Linked DNA regions of Homo sapiens: regions 1 and 3 are each linked to region 2. Evidence: fine-mapped expression QTL. A gene starts in region 2. Each other region holds a variant in brackets. All regions are shown on one strand. Distances are between the middles of the regions.

Region 1 (8,186 bases), 100 kb after region 2:
GACTGAAAAGAAGCAACCACTGAAATAGGAGGAAAACCAAGAGACTGAGGTGACCTAGAAGCCAAATGAAGAAAGTGTTTTAAGGAAGAGAGAGTGATCACTGCTACTGATTATCGAATAATATGAGGACTCAGAATTGATCATTGGGTTTAGCAGCATTGGGTCATTGGTGACCTGACAAGAAGAGTTTTCACCAATTGTAATGAAAGCCTGATTGGAATGGGTTTAAGAGAGAGTGGGAAGACACTAATGGCAGTTCCTTTGAAGAGTTTTACTGCAAAGGCGAGAAAAATATTTGAGTGTATCTGGGGGAGTTTCTTTTAAAAGCTGGGAAAATGACAAGTTTGTTAAATGATGAGAATGATCAAGTAGAGATGTAAAAATGGATGATGTAGGAGAAAGGGGACACTTGTTAGAGTGATGTCCTTTGGTATAAGTGAAGGGATTTGCTTTATATCATGTGGTTTTAACACATGTCCACCCACAAGCCTAAAATAAAAGTTAAAAAAAAAAAAACTTGCCCATAATACTTTGACACTATTTCCTTCAATAGGTGGAGCTGCAAAATATGTGAAGCAAAAACTGCAAAATATGTGAAGCAAAAATTGATAGGACTGAAAGGAGGAACAGACAAACCCACAGTCATGGTTGAAAACTTTGATACTCCTTTCTCAACCATTAGCAGAATACCCAGACAGAAATCAGCAAGGACATGGAAAACTCAACACTGCTGAGCACCAGGATGGAATCAACATTTATGGAACGCTTCACCCAATAATAGCAGTGTCCATAGAATATATGTGAAATAGACTGTATCTTGGGCCGTAAAACAAACCTTAATGAATTTAAAAGAACGAAAAGGATACAGTGTGTTTTTCAACTACATTGAAATAAAAATAGAAATCTATAAAAAAGATAGGAGGAAAATCTCTAAACACATAGAAATTAACAATACACTTACAGGAGGAAAATCTCTAAACACATAGAAATTAACAATACACTTCTAAATAATCTATGGGTCAAACAGGAAGTCTCAAGGGAAATAAAGAAAACTAACTAAATGTAAGTCAAATTACAATGTATCAAAATTTGTGGGACACAGCTAATGCAGCAATGAGAGGGAAATTTGTAACACTAAATGTGTACATTAAAAAAAGGAAAACTCTTAAATCCATAATCTAAGCTCCTATCTCAAGAACCTAAAAAAAATTGCAAAATAAGCCAAAAACAAGCAGAAGGAATAAAATGAGAAGATTAGAATACAAATCAATAAAATTGAAAACAGAAAATAGTAAAAAATCAGTGAAACAGAGAACTGGCTCTTTGAAAAGATCAATAAAATTGAGAAACATCTTGCAAAACTGACAAAGACAAAAAGAAAAGACACAAATTACCAACATTAGGCAGGAAACAGGCTATCTTTATTGACCCTGAACATGTCAAAAGAATAATAAAGGAATACTATGAGTAACTCTACACACATATACCTGAAAATGTAGACAAAATAAACCAATTCCTGGAAAACCAAAAACGACCACAACTTACCCAACATGAAGTAGATTGAATAGTTTTATAACTACTAAGGAAATCAAATTTGTAATTTAAAAATTCCCCAGAACATCTTCAGGCCCAGATGGTTTCATCAGAGAATTCTACCATATGTTTAAAGAAGAGTTAACAACCAGTTCTACACAATCTCTTTCAGAAAATAGAAAGAAAGAAAAACTTCTCTATTCATTTTTTTAAAAGCTAGTATTGCCCTGATATCAAAACTCGACAAAAACAGCACAAAAAAGGAAAATTACAGACCAATATTCCTTATGAGTATAGACACAAGAATCCTTAATAAACTATTAGCAAATAGAATTCAGCAACGTATAAAATAAATTATATACCATGACAATGTGAGGCTTATTACAGGAAACAAAGTTGATTTAATATTTGATAATAAGCCAATGGAAGCCACCATATTATCAGGCTAAAGAAGTAAAATTTCATGATCATATCAATCATGGTAGAAAAAACATTTGACAAAATTCAATAATTCATGATAAAAAAACTCTCAGAAAATGGAATAGGGAGAACTTTGTCAACATTGTAAAGAGCACCTACAAAAAAATCTATAGCCAATGTTAAATTCAATAGTGAAAGACTGAATGTTTTCTCCGTTTTATCAGGACTTAAGCAAGACTGTTTACTCTTACTAGTCTTATTCAGCATAGTGCTGGATGTCCTAACTGGTACAATAAGGCAAGAAAAAAAAATAAAAGACATACAGTTTGGAAAGAAACAAATAAAACTATCCCTATTTGAAGATGACATAATAACCCACTTAGAAAATCCCCAAGAATTCACCAAAAAAAAAAAAAAAATTCTTAGGGCTAATGAGTAAGTTCAGCAAAATACAAGATAAACATCCAAAAATTGATTGTATTTCATATATTATCAATGAAACCCTGAAGACTGAAATAAAAATACTAACATTATTTATAATTATTCAAGAACAAAAACGAAATACTTAGATGTAAATCTATAAAAACATGAATAGTACTGGTATGATGAAAACTACAAAACACTGATGAAAGAAATTTAAAAAAATGAAGAGATATACAGTGTTCATGGATTGGAAGACTCAACATATTACAGATGTCAATGCTCCCCAAATTGATATACAGGTTTAACACAATTTCTACTAAAATTCCAATAGGATTTTTTTGTGGATATAGTCAAGATTGTTATACAATTTATATAAAATAAGGAAGTAGTATAGCTAAAATATTTCAAAAAAGTTAAGGAAGAGGAAACAATCTACCCAGTTTTGACCTATTACGTAATCAAGACTATGAGGTACTGGTGAAGGGATAGACATATAGATCAATAGAACACAACAGAAAACCCAGCAATAGACTCATACAAATATGCCCAACTGATTTTTGACAAAGGTGCAAAACAGTTCATCAGAGGAACGATAAGTTTTCCAAGAAATGATGCTGAAGCAGTTGGACATTCACAAACAAAAAAATGAAGCCTCACCATAAACCTCACCCATTATATAAACATTAACTCAAAATTAATCACAGACTTAAATGTAAAACATAAACTTATCACGTTTTTTAAAATGGGAGAAAATCTTTAGGACCTTGAGCTGGACTAAGAGTCTTAGACTTGACACCAAATGTACAATTCATGAAAGGAAAAATTGATAAACTGTATTTTATCAAGACTAAAAAGTTTTGCTTTGCAAAAAACCCTGTGAAGAGTTGAAAAGATGAGCTACAGAGTAGGGGGTCGTATTCGTAAACCACATATCTGACAAAGGATTAGAATGTAGCATTTACAAAATACTTTCAAAACTCAAGAATAAAAAATTGAACAATCCAATTAGAACATGGGCAAAAGAAATGAAGAGACATTTCTCTGAAGAACATAAACAGATGGCTAATAAGCACATGAAAAGATGTTCACCATCATTAGCCATTGGGAAATGTAAATTAAAACTATAACGAGATATTACCACATATGGGTCAGAATGGGTAAAATCAAAAATAGTAGCAACACCACATTTTGGTGAGGATGCAGAGAAATGGAATCACTCATACATTGCTGGTGGGAATGTAAAATGGCATAGCCACTCTGGAAAACAGTTTGGCAGTTTCTTGAAAAACTAAACATGCAACTACCTTATGACCCATCAATTGTACTCCTGTGCATTTATTCCAGAGAAATAATGCATGCAAAACCTATACATGCATGTTTATAGAAGCTTTGTTTGTAATAGCCCTAAATTGGAAATAACCCAGTTGTCCTTCGACAGGTGAATGGTTAAACTGTGGTCCATCCCACCATGGAATATTACTCATCAATAAAAAGGAATGAACTACTGACATATACAACAAAGTGGACAATGGACTCTCCAGTGAATTACTTAGTGAAAAAAGTAAATCCCAAAAGGTTATACTATACAATTCAATTTATATAACATTCTTGAAATGACAAAATTATAAAAGTCTATTACAGATGTGTGGTTAACAGAAGTTAAGGATGGAGGAAGGGAAGAAGGTGACTGGAAAGTGAAAGTGGCTATCAAAGGATAAGATGGGGAGTCCTTGTGGTGATGGAAATGTTCTGAATCTTGACTCTATCAATGATAATATCTTCTTTGTGATATCACTATGGATTTACAAGATGCAGCCACTGGGGGGAAACTGGGTAAAGAGAACACCCATTCTCTCTGTATTATTTCTGACAACCGCATGGGAATTTACATTTATCTCTTAAAATGAAACATTTAATTTAAAACATTATTTTTTTTTACTTCCAGTTGCTTTTAAAATAAAATGCAAACAAAATGTGGCCCACAGGTGTCCACTGATCCTATCCTCTGCCTAACACCGCAACCTCTTATTGTACCACGTTTCTAACTCCAGCCACATTGTCGCTTTACTTTAATGACATTGAGCTCTCTTCTACTCCTGGTTCTTTGCATTTGCTGTTTCCTCTGCTTGGGAATGCTCTCTCCCCAGCTCTTTACATGGTTTCTCATTCAGAGCCTGCAGGTCTCAACTCAAACACCGCCTGCTCAGAGAAGCCAGCCTTTACTTGCAAATCATGGGAAAGGAGAGCAACTAAGCCCTGCAGCCCACTGCCTGGGGGCTGAATTGCAATACCTCCATCCAATAGCCTAAAGGCCTAGGCCATCAGACTTAACACCAGCTCTGTGTCTGTGTTCCC[A/G]TCTCTAAAATGGGCACCCTGTTAGTTTCTCCTTCACAAAATTGCTGTAAGAATTAAAGGGGGGCCAGGCGTGGTGGCTCATGCCTGTAATCCCAGCACTTTGGGAGGCTGAGGTGGGCGGATCACCTGAGTTTGGGAGTTCGAGACCAGTCTGACCAACATGGAGAAATCCCGTCTCTACTAGAAATACACAAATTAGCTGGGCCTGGTGGTGCATGCCTGTAATCCTAGCTACTCAAGAGGCTAAGGCAGGAAAATCACTTGAAACCGGGAGGCAGAGGTTGCCGTGAGCCGAGGTCACGCCATTGCACTCCAGCCTGGGCAACAAGAGTGAAACTCTGCCTCAAAAAAAAAAAAAAAAGGATTAAATGGGTTAACATAGTCATTTAAACTAGCACCTGAAATGCCATAAAGCCTACATAAGTGTTATTTATTATTATTTTAAAAACCTCCTGTAGTTACTCTCTATCTCTTTGGTTCTCAAGGTTTGATCCCTGGACCAGCAGTATCCCCATTACCTGAGAATTTGTGAAATATGCACACTTTCAGGCCATACCCCAGACCCACGGAAACTCTGAGGATGGAGTCCAGCAGTCTGTTTCAAGGAGCCCTACTGCTATGACTCCAATACGTGCCGCTTGAGTTTGAGGGCCATCAGTTTATCTCATCTGCCTGTTTACTTCCTTAATGTTACTATCACAGGTAGATATTATCTTTTTATTTATTTACATGATTAATGCCTGCATCTCCTTCCAGAAATCAGTATTCCACGAGGGCAGACTTATCAATCTTGTTCACTACTGTATCTCCAACTGTTGGCATAGCATCTGGCACAAAGTAAGCACTGATAAACTATTAACAAATAGACACATGAATGAACAAACTTGGCCAAGGTCATATTGTAACCAGGTACCCTGTTTTTAAGCTTTCTTTCTGTTGCCCTTTGTGTTAATTTCTTAGTAATGAAATAATAACCTTTACTCTCCTTTCCACCAGGCCCTCCCTTGCACTGGTAGCTTATCTAATTCTATGTTTGCTTAGAAGTTCCAAAGACTGAATCTTGAGACAATCCAGGTGCCTACGGAATTCTCCCCTACCAGGAGGTTGCTTCAAGGACACAGTTAATTTATAACCTGGTTGAGCCCAAGATGGCACCAGCCTATTCACCAGATGGAGCAGTAACTTAAGTCATCAGAACAAGTCATGTAGACCTGCACAGCCTTGCCCGTCTTGCATGCCCTTCACCCCAAACTCCTCTTTTTAACTCCTTTGCATTTTGCTTGAAAATTTGATACGGTTTCGTTAAGACAGGAGACTGGACAGTTTCTTCACTGCTAGCTATGGAAAAATAAAGTCACTGACTTTCTATCACAATTCATCCTTGTTATTCGGTTTTGCAAGTGGCAATCAACTGAATCTCCCTTTGGTTACAATCCATTTTTTAAATAACTGAACTGATGGATGTCGACTTCAGGCTGGCTTGCTCCCTCTGACACACTGAGAATCAATGGCACCCCAACTCCTAGTCATTACTCAGCAGTCCCAAGTTTCCCATATAGTGCTGTGCAAAACGGAAGTCACTAGCATGTAGAAACCCCCACTTCCAAACTGCATTTTAAATACAAATATGGCCACAACAGAGCCAGAGGTTCTTTGGTCATGGCAGTGGGCGCTTGCTCTTCCTATTGCATTGTGTTGTCCACTTCATTTTTACTTGTGATTGCCAAGGGAGCGTTTTCCTGTCATGGCAATGGGTCACCTTCTCTCTGTGGCTTTTAGTAGCTATGGCTGGTGAAGGGTTCCCTTCTCTTTGGGGGCTACTTTACATCTCAGTTTGGAGGCATCCCTTTTTCACCTTGGGTTTCAGTGGAGAGAAGATTCAGTACATAAGTACTCGCACTCTTTTCCGTGACACTACCATCTCTTCACTTTTCTCCTACTTCCCTGATCATTTCATCTCTGTCTCCTCTGTGGGCTTCTCTTCCTCAGCTTCTCATTGCTTCAGCTATTAGTTGCTCTCAGGGCCTGTTAGTTCCCTTTACCTGCACATTCCTAGGATGATCCCCTTCACTCCACAGCAGAATTTCCAATTCGAACCTCTTTGTTGGCACGTGGACCTCAGTGTCCCAAAGGAACCTCAGCACAGAATATTCAAGACTAAATGACTTATTTTCCTTTGCCCCTTCCTGTTATTCTCTTATATTTGTTAGTGGCACTGCCATCGATCCTGTTATCTGAGGCAGAAATCTGGGAGTGATTCTTTGTTCCTCTCTTTATCTCACTTCCTGTATCTTATCAGCATTCTAGTCCTTGAAATTGTACTCCTTATCATGCCTCACATCACCCCCTTACCCTCTCTGGTGCTAATCAGGGCTGCTGAATCACGTCACGTGGCCAGCCTGGCTGCAAAGCTTCAAGGATCTCACCTGGACTATTGTAATCATCTAATATCTTTGGTACTGGCCTTATATCTGTGTGAATCCTCCACACAACCACACTATGATTAAATAACTTTTTGAAATGCAAATTAGGCCCCTTTTGCTCCATTTTTTAAAATGATGTTAAAGGTCACGTGTTAAAGATATGATAAAATTCCTTAGTTTGCTGTACTAGGCCCTTCATAACTTCTGTGGATTGAATGTGTTCCCCAAAGATCATGTCTTGGAAAGTTAATTCTCAATACAACAATGTCATGTGGGGCCTATTGGGAGCTGTTTAGGTCATAAGAGCTCTGCCCTCATAAATGGATTTGAGTTGTTACGGCAGGAGTGGGTTTGTTATAAAAGCAAATTCAACACTGTCTTGCCCTGCCTTGCTCTCTCACCCATGTGATGCCTTTCTCTATGTTATGACAGAGCAAGAAGGCCTTCACCAGATGTGGCCCCTCAATCTTTGACTTCCCAGAACTTTCAGTCAAATGAATTTGTATTCGCTATAAATTACCTAGTCTGTGGTATTCTGTTATAGCAGCACAAAGTAGGCTAAAACAATGATCAATTCAGATGCCTCAATCTCTGTACCTTACTTCAAAACCTGCTGCTATGGACAGAGTTGGGTTTCCCCCCAGCATTCATAAGTTGACATCTCAGCCCCCAGTATGATGGTACTTGGAGATGGAGCCTTTGGGAGGTAATTAGGTCATGAGGATGGAGCCCTCATGAATGCGATTAATACCTTTATAAGAAGAAACAGGAGAGAGCCTTCTCTCTCTCTGCCATGTAAGAACACAAGAAGGCGGCTGTCTGCAACCCAGAAAGAGAGCTCTCACTAGGAACTGAATCACCTGGCACCCAAATCACTTCCCAGCCTCCAGAACTGCGAGAGAAGTAAATTTCTGTGGTTTAAGCCACCCTAGTCAATGGTATTTTGTTATTGCAGCTTCAGGTTACTACGATACCCATGCAACCTCCATACCAACCCTACCAGCATCATTAGCTTCTCAAAATCTTTTTGGC
Region 2 (8,186 bases):
CAATTAAACCTACACTGCTTCTAAGATTAATGCAAGTAAAGTCGGATCTTTGAAAGCTATAATGTATTCAGGAATCTTATCTTTCATTATGTTAGAGGCATACTTAGACCACTTAACAGTAGACTGTTAATAACACAGTCTATAAAGAATGATACTTTGTAAGCATGCTGTGAGTTAAAGAAAGAAAAGTCATTAAACACCTTGATTGAGACTTGCTTCAGAGTGCATCCTCCTCAGCACACTACCCAGCAGTTTGACAAAGTGCCCAGGATTAGCAGCCAATGTATGTAAAGAAGGAATATGGTCAAGCCCAATTGTAAAGTCTCCCCCCAGTGGTCAGATACAAGTAACAGAAAAGGAGGAAAATCATTGCAGCTTCTGTGAGACTGAACAGGAAGACTAAACAAAACTGGTCCCTACAACAAAAAAATAAAATCTTTAATTCAATACTAGCACCATATCAGGAAAGAGATCTCTTGTGCTTATCTGCTCTTATATTTATAAATGTGAAGACTACTTTTCTAAAGAACCTACAGTTAAAACAAAACTAGCATAATTTTTCTCCGCCTAAGTTTTAAGGAATAACTGACATATTCCCAAACAGTTCAGTATTTATCAAATGGGTAAGTGTTCATTCTTCCTGAAATAAACATCAGCACATCACTTACATGGTTAACTATACTTACCTGAAGTAGAGTTCTGATTTAAAAAAAAAAAATCTAGTCACTCATCAAGTGAATCACTCTGGAAGGAAAAATTATTAACTATTATATACCTAATGTGAATTTTACAAGATACTCTTTTTCAAAAGTCACCTAGCAATAGGTAATTTATATTAGAGTGATGTCAAAAGTATAAATGCGTCCTCTTACCTCTTTTAATTTTATTTTCTGGCTGTTTTTTTACAATTAGCCTTTGACTAGCACTAATCCTGTATTATTTGTAACTCTCTCAGCAATAATATGATGCTACTCCATTTTTACAAAGCTCAGATGTCAAAAATATGAAAGACATTTAATTAAAATATCTGTTTTATTCTGCTAATCCATTATTAAGTAGTAAAGCATGTAAAGGGATAGTAAATATTCAAACAAGCAACTTCAATTTTAAAACAACTTTTTAAAAAGATAACACATAGAGTCACAGTTATGTCTTCTTGGTTATCTCAAGCTAAAAAGAGGGGGAGTGGGGAGAGAAAGAGAGAAGCAGGCTATGTAGTGCTCTGGAACAATTTCAGCCTAAAATGAGACTCAGAAGCAAACTGCTCCCTCAAATGTTTAAAAATATGATTCATTTTTAAAAATCCAACAGTTGGCCTAAAGAAAAAAAAAGATTCTGTCTTATATAGAGCTACTAGACTTGCTTAAACACCTTAATTTTTCCAGTGTTGATTTAACCTAGAATGCAAAATAATTCATTTTGACATTCCAGATGTCAAGAATTCGGTGGCATCAGTAAGGACACATACACACCTCTTTCATAAAGATGGTGTGCAGTCTCCATAGGACAAAATTGAGCAATTAAAAGTGTTACCATTTGTGTATTATGTAACCGTAGTCCAGAATGAAGGAAACATGGACCTTAAAGAGTAACACATCGTGCAAACACGCATTTAAACACCTATTTAAATATATGATAGATTTAAGGTACAAATGACCTCAAAATGACACAACCCACAAAAGTTCTTTGTTTACTGTTAACAAGGCCTCAGAAGACATAACTATAATCAGGCCTACTACCCACTACCCTATCATTGCACAGTAGATGCCTACAATAAGCAATATTACTTGAGGTCCGTTGCTATACCTATATACGGAAACTATATACCGCATTACTAAAAATGTTACTTCGCCTGGTATATTCGACCAACATAAGTTTACAAATGATTTGCAAAATTTCACGGGAAGAAATGGCTGCTAAATCATACTCCAATTGAAACGCATTTTAACGCACCCCAAACGTTCTCAGCTACACTACAAGACCACTTGTAATATACTTGAAGCACAAAGTAAAATTCCAACACTCTCCAAAGGCGTAGGAAAGAATAAAACGTGGCTAGCCTGACCTTACCCGGCTGTTTATAAGTAATGCGGAGAATTTTCTGAGCTTCCCCGGCAGTCTTCAATTCTCTCCCTCGCTTCACCCCCACCCCCTACACAGATGCACACCCAACTGATGGAAGTTTAACAAATGTAATCTCGAGCTGCAATCCCAGAAACTGGTAGGATTGAGAATAAACTCCCAGTAAAGTGTTAAAAAGTCCTTCTGCAAAAAAACATCTACCAACCAATCCACATCCTGTCACCACACGGTCGGATACCTCAATCGACTCCCCTGCTGACCCTCCACCCAGCCAAAATAAAAAAGCCCCAGCACCTATTTGGTTTCAGACAAACGTACCGAGAATCCGCGAGCACGATCTCAGCAGCGAACGCCCCCGCGGCAGCCTGTGCTCGGCCCACAGCCACTTTGGCCAAACAACTGGAGTCTCGTACCTCGGAAGTAGCGGCGGTAGTTGGAGAAAGCCTCCTCCCCTACCAACTCCGAGCTCGGGAGAGAACCGGGAGCCGGCGGAATCACCCCCTCTCGGGACAGACCCCGGAGGTGTCAGTCACAGCAACGCCGCCCCCAGGCCGGCTCTCCATTCAGGCTCCACCGCGACTCCCGCCGCAGAGGTGTAGGCACCCAAGCCCCGCGCCCGAAGGGGCCCCGCGCGTCTGCGGCCCTAGCCCCAGTCGGGGCCGCGCCGGGGAGCGCGTGGGGAGCGGCGGCAAGCAGCATGGGCCAGACACGTTGCCGAGCTCCGGCCCGCCCAGCCGCCCGCAGCCAGAGAGGCAGGAGCCCGGCCGAGCGCCCCTTCCGCGCGGGCCGGGCTGGGGGCGGCCAGCAGCCTCCCCGACCGCGGCGCCGCCGCCGCCGCCTGCCGGTCCCTCTTCCCCGCGCCCGCCGAAGCCCAGGTGCCGAGGGGGGCGGGGCGGGCCAGGGTCCCCGCGTGGCGCGCCGCGCCGAGCAACAGGGCGCCCCCGGCCGGCCCGGCGCGCGGCGCGACCGTTACCCGAGCGGCGTGGGGGTCCAGTTAACTCACCGGCTCGCACCTCAGCCGCCTCCGCGCCGCCGCTGCCGCCGCTCCCGGTCGCTCCCCGCCGCCGCTGCTCTCCCTCAGCCACAGGCGCCGCCGAGCAGCCCCATCTGCAAACTCGTGGCTCGTAGTTGAGAACTGGAAATGCGTCTCTCACTGCCCTCCGCCTCCCTCTCTCTCCTCCCCCTCCCTCGCTCCCCACTCTGCCCCAGCTCCGGTCGCCCCCGCCGCTGCCTCCGCGCGCGCAGCCAGCCGCGCCTCAGCCGCCCTCCTCCTCCTCCTCCTCCTCCTCCTCCTCCTCCAGCCGCCGCCGCCGCCGCCGCTTGGGCGCGCTCCCAGCCGGCCTCGCGCGTGCGCCGGACGTCGGGGAGCGCGCGCTCGGGCGCGAGGAGGTGCCACCGCCTCCGGAAAGCCGGGCCCCGCCCCTCCCGCCGCGGCTGGGCGCCCAGGTGGAGCCCCCTCCCAGCTTCTGAGCGCCCAGACTGACTGCGCTCTGCGCCCGGCCGGCTCGCTTCAGGGGTCCCGGACCTGCGCCCGCGAGAGAGGGCTGGTCGGACCCAGTCCCCGCCGGGTCTCCTGGGCCGAAGTCGCAGCTGTCTGTCAGCATTTACGGGTGGGCAAGATACTCCTCGGGGCATAAAACAGGCTCCGCCCTGACCTTTCTGAGAGTTTTACATTCAAGAACCCAGTCGTGGGGCACAAAAGAGAAATGGAACGAGAAGAAAAGCCTCTGGAAAAATCTCCCCCTCCCCCTTCACAGACTCCACTGGATCTGATGTGTATTTGGCAGGTTCTACGGCGCTGACTGTGTCCTTCATTAATTTTTTCCCAAAGGCCCGACCGGGCAGTGTGATTCACACCCGAGGAAATGCATGGACACTGGCTCTTTTCATAGCACCGAGGCTCCCGTGGAACTCCCTGGGTCGGCTTTGCCAGACACTCCCTGGACACAGTTGTTCAGCTCCTCCCCAGCACCTGGGCTTCCCAGACCTCAAAAGGGTGGGGTTGGGGAGGGCATGCCATCCTTTCAGCCTGGACTCTGCGTAGAGCTTGGTGAACTGTGATGAGTGTCCGGATGTGTAGATGACACATTTTGACAGAAGTGCAGATTTAATTTTTCAGTTGAAAGGAACTGAGCAATGCACTGCAGCAGAGACTTCTGGCTAGAAAAACATAGCAAGGCAGCCAGAGAACTTCCGATCCCCTTAAAAGAGCTCTGTGAACCCTCAGACCTGTGACAGGCGGCTTTTGGAAAAACTATTGTGTTCTTCCTAAAATTGAAGAATGTAATTTACATTTTACAAAATGCTTACTGCAATCTTTTCAAACCATGAACGTAGAAAGTGCAAGTCAAACTTTACGTGTGAGGAGTGTTATGAGGTGGCCTCCTCTGTGCAGCCTTTCCTGGCTTCTCTTGGGCACCTTGCACAAACCAGACCATTAATAAGTGTTTGCAGAATAAATGCGTGCATCATGGCCCTTTGGATTCAGAGATGAAGTTATAAGTTGTATTGTCTCCTCTCTTTGTGAATGTGGCAGGCATGGAAGGGAGAGAGAAAATACTATTGATGAGATGTATTAAGAAGGTCCAGTGTCCAAAACAGTGATTTTTGTGTTTATCCTCAACCAAGCATCAAAGATTAATTTACTTTTCCATTAGGATCATTAATTTTGCAAACCAACATGCAGGGGGGCCTTGTACAGTGTTAATTTAGAACCTTCTTTCCTGGAACCACAAACCCAGGCAAAGGTAATTGGAAGCATTTAAGGAGACTCAAACGTGCCCAGGGCACAGAGTAGCTTTGGGCCCCCTGTAGTCAGGATGGCTGGATGAAATGAAGTGGAGTGGGCTCGGAGCCCAAGGCAGAGACAAAGCGGAAGGATGGGGTTTGTCTTCTCGGGGTGTCAGCAAGACCTTTCAGGTCCTTCTTGCTGCCCCAGGCCCACTTGCTTCTCACAGGACACCCATGGGTCCTCCCTGCTGTACCCTACCCAGGCTTGTGAACTCTTTTCCCTTCTGACTCTTAACCTTAACACATCCCCTTGGACCCAGCCACTTAGTTACTTGCCCTGAGCTTCTCTGGGGTTGGGGTGGGAGGTAGGGTATGAATGTCATTTCCAGATATGTTAGTGATCCTTAATAGTGCACTTTTATTTCCTCAAGGGTCTTCTGGAAACAATGTCCTAACCTACTCTACCCCTGCTCCCTGCAAGTAGAATGATGTTAACTGAGGAAGTTTTAGGGAGGGAGGGTTTGGGGTAGGCTCTGCCCCTCAAATTACATGCAGACCTACCTGACTTAAAGCTGGCACCACTCCTGGCCAACTGCTTTATCTCTGCATCTACCAGAGACCCAGCATTTGGGAGCAGGAATACAGGAACAATTATCTTTCATTTGCAGTTCCAAGTCTGTGCTCTAAGTAATGACAGCAGCTATCAGATGGAGGCTTATCACTGCCGTAAGACTCAGCTTCATTCTTAGAGTCAGAAAAATGATTTTGCTCCAATAACTGTCTTTGATTGCTCCCCTTCAGAAAGCTCTTGCCGGTGAAGTTCCTCTCTCAGTGTCAGATGAGTATTGTATCAAATACTCATATACAGTTATAAAAGGAAACACTATTTCCTTTTATAAATGATATTCCCATTTTATAACATTCTGCCCTTCCTCTAAACTTTAAAGGTGGGACATGCCAGGATAAATTTAAAGTGTTCTCAGTTAAACATTGGAACTCCCATCATTGGTTCCCAACTCAGCTTTCTGAGAGGTCATCATACTGAGACACCACCATCCATTTCCCATACCGGTTACAAATTCTTCATTCCAAGAAAGGGGAATGATATGATTGAGAATGATGGTGGATCTTTCTCTTCAGTGTCCTTAATAGTCTGACTTTTCATTTCCTTCAAGGTTACTCTAAAGGGATCATAATTTTACCACAGCCCAGTATCTCCCAACGGTAATTCAATTTAAAATTTGAATTTTGATTCTTAATTCAGGAGCATCCATCACTCAATTTTGTTTCCTCCTTCAAATGTAAACAACATACACTTTTAATGTGATTACATTTTCTTTTCTCTTCTGACCTGCTTTGCTCCTACAGAAATTGAGAATTTTGCTAATAGCCCCGAATTTTAGCAAAAGCAAATCCTGTGTACTTGTTTTTCAACTAATCCATCATAGTAAAAGCAGTGACACTCCTGGAGGATAGCTTTATTTAAAAATGCAACTGGCATGCATCACAAAGTCCAACCAAGTTTTCCTTCAGAATACTTTATTTAGCTTCACTCCTTTTATCTCTGCTCACAAAGCTAGGTCAGATTCCAATTTCCAGCCTCCTTGCTAACCTTTCTAATTCTAGCCTCTCTCTTGCTTCCTTGCAATTTATCCTATACTCAGAGCAGTGCTTCTTAATTTTTGGCTCTTTATTGAAATCACCCAGAGAACTTTAAGAAACAAAACAAAGCACTGATGCTTTGATGCCATCCCAGACTTAATTGCTCTGGAGCACAGCCTGGGTGCCAGGATTTTTTCAGAGCTCTCCAGATAACTCTAATACGCAGCCAGAGTTAAGAACTATGGAAATGAATCATCTTCCAAACAACATTTATACCAAATCTTCACAACAGTGGGGTAGCTCCAAATTACCTCGAGTAATCAAATTAAAATTCCTAATCCTGTGCTTTAAGACTCTTTGCCAATTGACTAGAATAGTCCCCTTTCAAAACAGCTTAAATTTATCTCCTTCCTAAAGCTTCTCCAGATTAGTCTCACCTGGCTGCCTGAAGATCACCGTTCCCAGCTCTGAGCATCCCGACTGGCACTGGTTTACAAACCGCTGGACCTCAGTTGATTGTGTACATTATTGTTTTAATCTTGCTTTCATAGATATTTGTCAGAGGCTTTTCTTATAATCTAAATCTTTCCAAAAGTCCCACTGGGTCAACTGTCTCAAACAGAAATGTCTTAGCAGAACTTTCTCCTCTAAACTAGCTGTCTGAAAAAACATTTCCTGATACGATGGCAGTTCTTTTTTTTTTTTTAATCATCACAATTAAAGCCAAACATTATAAGAACTTGAGTTTTGGGGTTGTTTGGTTTTTCCTTAAAAAAGAAAACTATATATCTCAGCATATCTCCTTGACTTTTCTTACCATTATTTGTTTATTTTAGGCATTGGAATTGGGCTTCCACACCCACTTCTCTGCTGAAACTACTATTTCCATCACAATTAACATTTTCATTCATGTGTTCATCCATTCAGTCACTCATTTACTAGTGAAGCATAATGAAAATAAAAAAATTAACAATATCAAGTAGTCCCTACCTAATGGCGAAGAATAATAAGCAAAATATTACATAATAAGTGCTATGCCAGGTGTCTTAATAGTATATGACAGAATTAGTGGGGAAGGTCTTTGCTTAGTGTTCATGCCATTGAACTTCTCTGCAGTGTTTGAGGAGGTTAATCTCTCGTACTCTCACTCTCTAAACCTCTCTTTTCCTTTAACTTCTCTGATACCATACCACCTGGGAGCTCTTTCGACCTCTCTGACTGTTCCATCTCTGACCCTTACTTTGCTGTGTTATCTCCTCCTACTTCCTAAAGAAAAATGTTCCACTAAGAATGAAATAAATTTTTGAGGAGAAACTTAAAAAGAGCAGATAGTACTGTTTATCTTGAGAATCCCAGGGATCCTTAGGACTCTAGCACCAATGCTTCCACATCTGTATCTATTCTCCCTTGAGGCATATTTTCAACTCGCTGTTGAAAATTTCCATCTAGATAAGCTATTCACGGGGTTGCTCCTGCTGGTTTTTCTGGCACCTTCCTTTCCTTTACCTCCTTTTACCATCTCCTGAACAAACACATACTCAAATCCCTTGCAGCCCACTTTCTCAAAATTATAGGAATGGATTCTCTTGTTTATTTGCTTTAGTCCTACAGAGTCTCCTAACTCATCTCCCTGCCTCAGGGCCTCCTTGCCCTGACTGCCAGGTGCCAGTCATTTTATCCCTGTCTCCTTACTGCCTACGGGACCCCATTTACAAGGTCATTCACAATGACAGTCAAAGCTTCCCTGTTTGGATATTCTAGTTAGTCATATC
Region 3 (8,186 bases), 34 kb after region 2:
TGCCCAAGGAAAGAGCTCCATATTCCTACTGTCATCCAAATTATATTATATAATATAAATATTTGCTAATTTGCTTAGGAGATTCATTTATCCCCTTTACAACAGCATCAAAAAGAATAAAATACTTAGAAATAAACTTAATAAAAGAAGTATACAACTTACATCTTGAAAACTATAAAACATTGTTGAAAGCAATTAAAGAAGGTCTAAATAAATAGAAAGGCATTTCGTGTTCACAGACCAGAAGACTTAATGTTGTTAAGATAGAAATATTCCCTAACTGATCTACAGATTAAATATAACTCCTCTTAAAATCCTGGAGAAACTTCTTGCAGAAATTGACAAGCTGATCCTAAAATTCACACGCAAATGCAAGGGACTCAAAATAGCCAAAACAATCTTGAAAGAGGAGAATAAAATAGAAAGACTCATAATTCCTGATTTCAAAACATGCTATAAAGCTACAGTAATCAAGACACTTTGGTACTGGCATAAGGAAAGACATAGACCAATAGACTAGAATTGAGAGACCAGAAATAAATCTCACATTTATGGACAGTTCATTTTCAACAAAATGCCAAGACAACTCAATGAGAAAAACAAACTTTTCAACAAAGGATACTGGAAAAACTGAATATCCACATATAAAATAATAAAATTGTACCCCTTCCTTACACCATACACAAAAATTAACTCAAATGGGTCAAATAAGTAAATTCAAAGGTAAAACTATAAAACTCTTAGAATAAAATCTAGGGGTAAAACTTTGTGACGTTGGGTCAGGCAAAGTTTTCTTAGATATGATACTGCTAAAAGCACAAGTGACAAAAGAAAAAGTAGATAAGCTGGACTTCTTCAAATTTAAAAAACTTAATCAGACATGGTGGGTCACACCTGTAATCCCAGTGCAAGGATCACTTGAGCCCAGGAGTTTGAGACCAACTTGGGCAGCATAGTGAGACAAAAATTCATCTCTACAAAAATAAAAATAAAAAATTAGCCAGGCATGGTGATGTGTGTCCATAGTTCCAACTACTTGAGAGGCTGTGGTGGGAGGATCACTTAAGCCTGGGAGTTTGGGGCTGTAGTGAGCCGTGCTTGTACCACTGTACTCCAGCCTGGATGACAGAGTGAGACCCTGTCTCAAAAAAACCAAAACCAAAAACAAAAACTTTTGCATTTCAAAGAATACCACCAAGAAAGGGAAAAGAATGAGTGAAAATACTTGTAAATGATATAGCTGATAAGGAACTTGTATCCAGAATACATACATGTCAGTAGTAGAAAGATTACCCTACTTAAAAAAAAGCAATGAATCTTAATAGACATTTCTCCAAAGAAGATATATAAATGTTCAGTAGGCACATCAAAGGATGCCCAATATCATTAGCCATCAGGAAAAAAAGTAACCAAAATCACAATGATATACCACTTCACATTGTCTAGGATGATTACATAGGAAGTAACAAGTGGTGCTGAGGATCCAGAAAATTTGGAACCCTGATTCACTGCTGTTAGGAATGATTAAGCATAGAATCACTGTATCATTCAGCAGTTCTACTCCTAGGTATATATCCAAGACATTAAGGAATATATCCACACAAGAAGTTGTATATGAATGTTCATAGCAACATTATTCATAATAGCTAACGAGTGGGACAATCTAAACATCTGTAAACTGATGAATAGATAAACATAATGTAGCATTATTTTGTTATAAAAAAAAGTACTGAGAGATGCTACCACATGGATAAATCTTGAAATATTAAGATAAAAAAAGAAGCCAGTCGCCAAAAAAACTCCACCCCACATATTATATTATTCCATTGATACAAAATGTCCAGAAAAGACAAATCTATAGAGACAGAAAGTCGATTAATAATTGGCTAGCACTGGGGGATTGGAGGTTAATGGAAAGTGACCAGTAATCTGTACGGAATTTCTTTATAGGGTGATGAAAATGTTCTAAAATTGATTGTGGCTGGGCGCGAAGGCTCGTCTTTGTAATCCTAGCACTTTGGGAGGCTGAGACAGGTGGTTGGCTTCAGCCCAGAAGTTTGAGACCAGCCTGGGCAACATGGCAAAACGCTGTCTCTACAAAAAAATACAAAAATTAGCCGGGTATGATGGTACACACCTGTAGTCCCAGCCACTTAGGGGGCTGAGTTATGAGGATCACTTGAGCCCAGGAGGTTGAGGCTGCAGTGAGCAGAGATCGTGCCACTGCTCTCCAGCCTGGGCAACAGAGTGAGACTCTGTCTCAAAAAAAAAAAAAAAAAAAAAAAAAAGTGATTGTGGTTAGGGTTGCACAACTCTGTTAATATGCTAATAACCTTTGAATTGAACACATTAAATGAATGAATTGTATGTGAATTATATTTCAAAGCTACTAGTTATATAAGGTACGCATACTTACATAAATATATGTGTATGCTATATATGCTTTACTACTTACATAAAGTATATACACATGTATATACATACTTTTTATATTGAAAAAACTGATATACAGTAAATATAGTAAAAATGTACCCCAAACATTTCCAGCGTGCTTGCTGTGCAGGCACTTGGATATAAAGACCAAAAGTTCCTGACTCTTTCTACCCTAGGAGTTCGCATGTTGATGGGTAGCTTCATGCGTCTCTGTAGGAGCTATGAGTCAAGCTATCTCCGACAGAGACCAGTGGCTAGTGTTCCCCAACAGACCTCAGCTAAAGGTCTCCAGTTAAAAGTGAGTCAGATTCAACATTCTCTTTGAGGTGTCTTACTTCCCTGCTTCTCTCTTTCGTCCCTAAAATGTTGAAATATTTAAGGTGCCTAAACTCATAATAAACCTAAAAAAAAAAACCACCTAAAAAGCCATGGTTCTCAGCAGGAGGACAATGGATAAAATATTTGAAAAAGAAGAATTTTATTCTGGCTTGTTTTCTTCACAGCTGAAGGCCTTCAGCCGTTTCCAGTCCAGTATCACTCTAGGCATGGAATTTTGGGCAGTAGAAAACATTTAGCGTTTGTCCATCATTTAGATCTAGATTAAAAATGAATGTATTACATTTGAACCCTGGTAATTTCTAATATTTCATATTCAACAATATCATGTCACTCATTGTTATGTACCATATGGTGCTTGAGCTAAAGATACACTAGTGCCAAGGTTATCAGAGAATATCCAACTCAGCGTGGACGACAGACATTATAGAAATAATTGTGAAGGAAAAATGTTAGATGCTGTGGGAACTGCTAACCTGTGGAAACCAAAGCATTAATGTGAGGAGGTAAATTTTATGCTGAAACCCAGGTAAAGGTGTGAAGGTGGTTACAGGTGTGGTCAAGATGGCAGTGCCTATAGAGAAGAGTATGGCAGGCTGGGGAAGAGCATGGGAGAAGGTCCCAGCAGAGGGAAATCTAGCAGAAAGAAGCTCATGCAGCTGAGTGTGAGGATTGAGGAGAAAGGGTATGAGATAAGACTGGTGAATTAGATGTGGATGGGACAGGCAAGGCCTTAAAGGCTGGGGTGAGAAGTTCAGATCTTGTTGTAGGGTCAGTGGGAAACCATTGAAAGTTTTAAGTGTGGAGCGCAGTAATCAGATATTTAAAGAGATCCCCGGGGCTGTTTTGTGAAAAACTTTTCAAATATGCATGTCATAACAGAAATATTTTTTAAAAAGAAGTTCAATTACATGTTTTCACTTCAAAATTTTCTTAATTTTGAAAACTCAGATGAAGCTTACAACTTCTTTATTAGAAATGACAAGTAAAATGCCATATTCAACTGATCCTATTTAATCACTGGATCATTCAGGGACAAAGCATAGAGAGTTTGTTTTTCAGTGATATTTTTCCTCATTCCAAACATTTGAAATTTGAAATTCAATAAAAACATGAACAAAGATACTTTTTAAGTTTCTAGGACAAATGTCACAAAAGCAAACAAATGGAGTACCAAATAAATTTTCTGAGGCTCAGTGAGTAGGGTGGGCAGTGGATGGCAGAGTTTGTGGGTGTTGGTATGCTGAAAATTCTGGGGCTTCTCTGTTGACTTCTAAAGAAGTTGAACAGGACCCCAGTGCTAAGTCCTAGAGAATGTGTGACAACATTCCCAAGAATGACCAACCCTAGG[C/T]AAATGTAAAATTAGGTTAGTATTAGAAAAAGAGATGACTAATTTCTCTGAGTGGCCTAAATACATTTTTTCTTAATTCCAGTCTTTAATTAGCTCAACAAGTATTTATTGGCATTCTATTTTGTGTAAGGACTGGTACTAAGTACTGAGATCTTTATATGTTTCTACCTATCTATCTATCCATATCTTTTAAAAAAATTTTTTTATTATACTTGAAGTTCTAGGGTACATGTGCACAACGTGCAGGTTTGTTACATATGTATACATGTGCCATGTTGGTTTGCTGCACCCATTAACTCGTCATTTACATTAGGTATATCTCCTAATGCTATCCCTAGCTACCCCCATCCCTACCCCCTACCCCCACCCCACGACAGGTCGTGGTGTGCGATGTTCCCCACCCTGTGTCCAAGTGTTCTCATTGTTCAATTCCCACCTATGAGTGAGAACATGTGGTGTTTGGTTTGCTGTCCTTGTGATAGTTTGCTCAGAATGATGGTTTCCAGCTTCATCCATGTCCCTACAAAGGACATGAACTCATCATTTTTTATGGCTGCATAGTATTCCATGGTGTTTATGTGCCACATTTTCTTAATCCAGTCTATCATTGATGGACATTTGGGCTGGTTCCAAGTCTTTGCTATTGTGGATAGTGCCACAATAAACATACATGTACATGTGTCTTTATAGCAGCATGATTTATAATCCTTTGGGTATATACCCAGTAATGGGATGGCTGGGTCAAGTGGTATTTCTAGTTCTAGATCCTTGAGGAAACACCACACTGTCTTCCACAATGGTTGAACTAGTTTACAGTCCCACCAACAGTGTAAAAGTGTTCCTATTTCTCCACATCCTTTCCAGCACCTGTTGTTTCCTGACTTTTTAATGATCACCATTCTAACTGGTGTGAGATGGGATCTCATTGTGGTTTTGATTTGCATTTCTCTGATGGCCAGTGATAATGAGCATTTTTTCATGTGTCTGCTGGCTGCATAAATGTCTTCTTTTGAGAAATGTCTGTTCATATCCTTTGCCCACTTCTTGATGGGATTGTTTGATTTTTTCTTGTAAATTTGTTTAAGTTCTTTGTAGATTCTGGATATTAGCCCTTTGTCAGATGAGTAGATTGTAAAAATTTTCTCCCATTCTGTAGGTTGCCTGTTCACTCTGATGGTAGTTTCTTTTGCTGTGCAGAAGCTCTTTAGTTTAATTAGATCTCATTTGTCAACTTTGGCTTTTGTTGCCATTGCTTTTGGTGTTTTAGTCATGAAGTCCTTGCCCATGCCTGTGTCCTGAATGGTATTGCCTAGGTTTCTTCTAGGGTTTTTATGGTTTTAGGTCTAACATTTAAGTCTTTAATCCATCTTGAATTAATTTTTGTAAAAGGTATAAGGAAGGGATCCAGTTTCAGCTTTCTACATATGACTAGCCAGTTTTCCCAGCACCATTTATTAAATAGGGAATCCTTTCCCCATTTCTTGTTTTTGTCAGGTTTGTCAAAGATCAGATGGTTGTAGATGTGTGGTATTATTTCTGAGGGCCTCTGTTCTGTTCCATTGGTCTATATCTCTGTTTTGGTACCAGTACCATGCTGTTTTGAAAAATATGCAATGCTTCACAAATCTGTGTGTCATCCTTGTGCAGGGGCCATGCTAATCTTTTCTGTATAGTTCCAATTTTACTATATGTGCTGCCGAAGCGAGCACATATCTATCTATATCTCTTTATCTATCCATCTTGATAAGGAGCAACAATCATTTGTAGATGGCCCATTTTGTCGATGGAAGTAAGTCTTTATTACAGAAAAATTCATTTACAGCTTATTTTGAAGACTTAATAGACAGATCTAATCTTATCTTCCCAAACAAAACAATATTCTTCCTAACAGACTGCAATTCCAGTAGTAAATGTTTTTAGAAAGAAATCTTGGGGCATATGGCATAAAAATAGATTCATGGGACAATAGAATAAAATATTTGAACTCACAACTGTCCATGGAAATTTTAGGAATATATTGTCATTTATCTGTATCATTGCATTCACCAGGTTTCAACATTATTAGTATTACAAAAGCTCCATTGTCATTCACTAAAAGCAGAAGTGACTCTGAGACACACCACTTTTATCCATACAACACGATATCCATCAATCATCCATATGCCTCCTGCATTCATAAAATCATGCAGCACATGCTATATGTGGAAACAAACTGATTTTTGCTTTCTATTATGATTTATATCATTATTCACACTCCACTGTAGTCTCTTTGGGAAGAGTTGGTTACCATTAGCGTTTGCTGTCAATCAGATTTTGCTTCTTTCCTTACTTACCCTTTTTTCATATCTGAACTACAGTAAAAGAACAAGACAAGAATAGAAGTCCTAATATTAAAAAAAGATCACAGAATATATGACCTTTAACCAACGCTGTGATCATTTGCTTCTTTTTAAAATAAGATATATAATTAGAACTGAAAAATGCCAATAAAATCCAGTCATTTGTATCTTTTCCTCATATAAAGAAAAGTTGGAAAATTAGTTGAAATGGAAAATGATTTTTAAGGTTTAATGCAGAATAATTCTTTAAAGTCATGACTAAGACTGATCATCTACTCAAGGTATTCACATTTCAAAGCATCCATTTAGCTTGCAACCTTATTTTAATCATACAGGGCCTCAATATCTTCCTGCCCTGCAGGTTTTTGTTTTCAATGGGCATTTATTTAAAAAGAAACTCCAGATTTATAAATAGATTAGGTGTGATGCTAATTCCTTAATTCTAGGAGGTTAGACTTTCATATTTAAAAAGGTCACTTATTTTTTCAATAGCAAACATTTAGGAGGTATTCATTAGGTACCTGGCATGGCTTTAGATTCTGACCTACAAAGACTTCAAGTCATGATTTTCCCATTTGGAGAAGCTTACCTTTTAGTGAGGAAAGTATGCGTGTTAAAAAAAAAAATCTACATACCTATCTATCAATCTGACAATAACACGTGGAAAGTGCTAACAGATAATGAAAACAGAACATGAGCCCTGAAGGCAGCATCACTGAGGAAGTATCACTGAACTGGAAACTTTCCTAGAAAAAAAGGAGTTTGTGAGATGAAGGAGGAAGAGGAAGGGAGAAAAAAATACAAGTGTCAGAGTTCCTAAAGGGGCTTGGTATTTTGGGGACTATCGGCCTGAGCACAGGAAGCATGGGATGAGTGCAAATGAGTTTATAGTGAAAAATATAATATTACATAATGATAAGTGAAATGTCACAGTAGAACACCAAATTTTTCCAGATATTTGCTATGCATATTCATATCTATCTATCTGACTCTCTCTCTCCTATCATCCATCTATCTATATCTATCTATCTATCTGTCTGTCTATCTATCTATCTATCTATCTATCTATCTATCTATCTATCTAATCTTCTAGGTAGCTAGCTAATCATCTATCAATCTGTATAACCATCCATCTATCTTTCTCCTCTAATGGTATCACACTTTAATTTCCCACAGAAATGTTTTGTATTTTGCAAACTGCTTTTTCTTAATACATCTTGAATACAATACAAATCATAGACAAGCAAATGGAAAACAACAAAGAGCAGGGGTTGCTATTCTTATATCAGACAAAACAGAGTTTAAACCAACATCAATCAAAAAGGACAAAGAAGGGCATTACATAATGATAAAAGGTTCAATTCAATTAGAAGTCTTAACCATCCTAAATATATATGCACCCAACACTGGAGCACCCAGGTTCATAAAACAAGTTCTTAGAGACCGGTGGAGAGACTTAGATAACCACGAAATAATAGAGGGAGACTTCAACATCCCACTCACAGTATTAGACAGATCATCAAGGCAGAAAACTAACAAAGATATTTGGGACTTAATCCCAACACTTGACCAGATAGACCTAGCAGATATCTTCAGCACACTCCACCCAACAACAGACTGTACATTCTTCTCATCTGCACCTGGCATATACTCTAAAATTGACCATACACTCAGCCTTAAGGCAATTTTCAACAATTCAAAAAAACCAAAATCATACCAACCACACT

Alleles and levels. Alleles are on the strand shown, and positions count from the first base shown. SD is a standard deviation of normalised expression in the study named. Not every link is listed here.
For the expression in skeletal muscle of the gene that starts at base 3,227 in region 2, allele G in region 1 goes with a higher level than allele A (small effect, 0.29 SD a copy in GTEx).

Evidence for each region.
Region 1: its variant is fine-mapped to the expression of PALS2 in skeletal muscle (GTEx, PIP 0.97).
Region 3: its variant is fine-mapped to the expression of PALS2 in tibial nerve (GTEx, PIP above 0.99).

Annotation. Positions count from the first base shown.
Region 1 is chr7:24,463,957-24,472,142 of GRCh38, reverse strand. LOC124901601 (a long non-coding RNA gene) reads left to right here. Exons shown (of 2, transcript XR_007060259.1): 2 at 554-860. Among named protein-coding and RNA genes, the nearest start is that of PALS2, 110 kb to the left of the region's middle. The variant A/G (reference allele first, on the strand shown) is at 4,732.
Region 2 is chr7:24,568,493-24,576,678 of GRCh38, reverse strand. It overlaps PALS2 (protein associated with LIN7 2, MAGUK p55 family member), which reads right to left and starts at 3,227. Exons shown (of 12, transcript NM_001303037.2): 1 at 3,086-3,227. RefSeq lists enhancers at 26-527, 2,359-2,478, 2,529-2,578, 2,524-3,023, 3,889-3,988 and 1 more and a silencer at 2,679-3,748.
Region 3 is chr7:24,534,975-24,543,160 of GRCh38, reverse strand. It overlaps the pseudogene RNU6-1103P. Among named protein-coding and RNA genes, the nearest start is that of PALS2, 34 kb to the left of the region's middle. The variant C/T (reference allele first, on the strand shown) is at 4,121.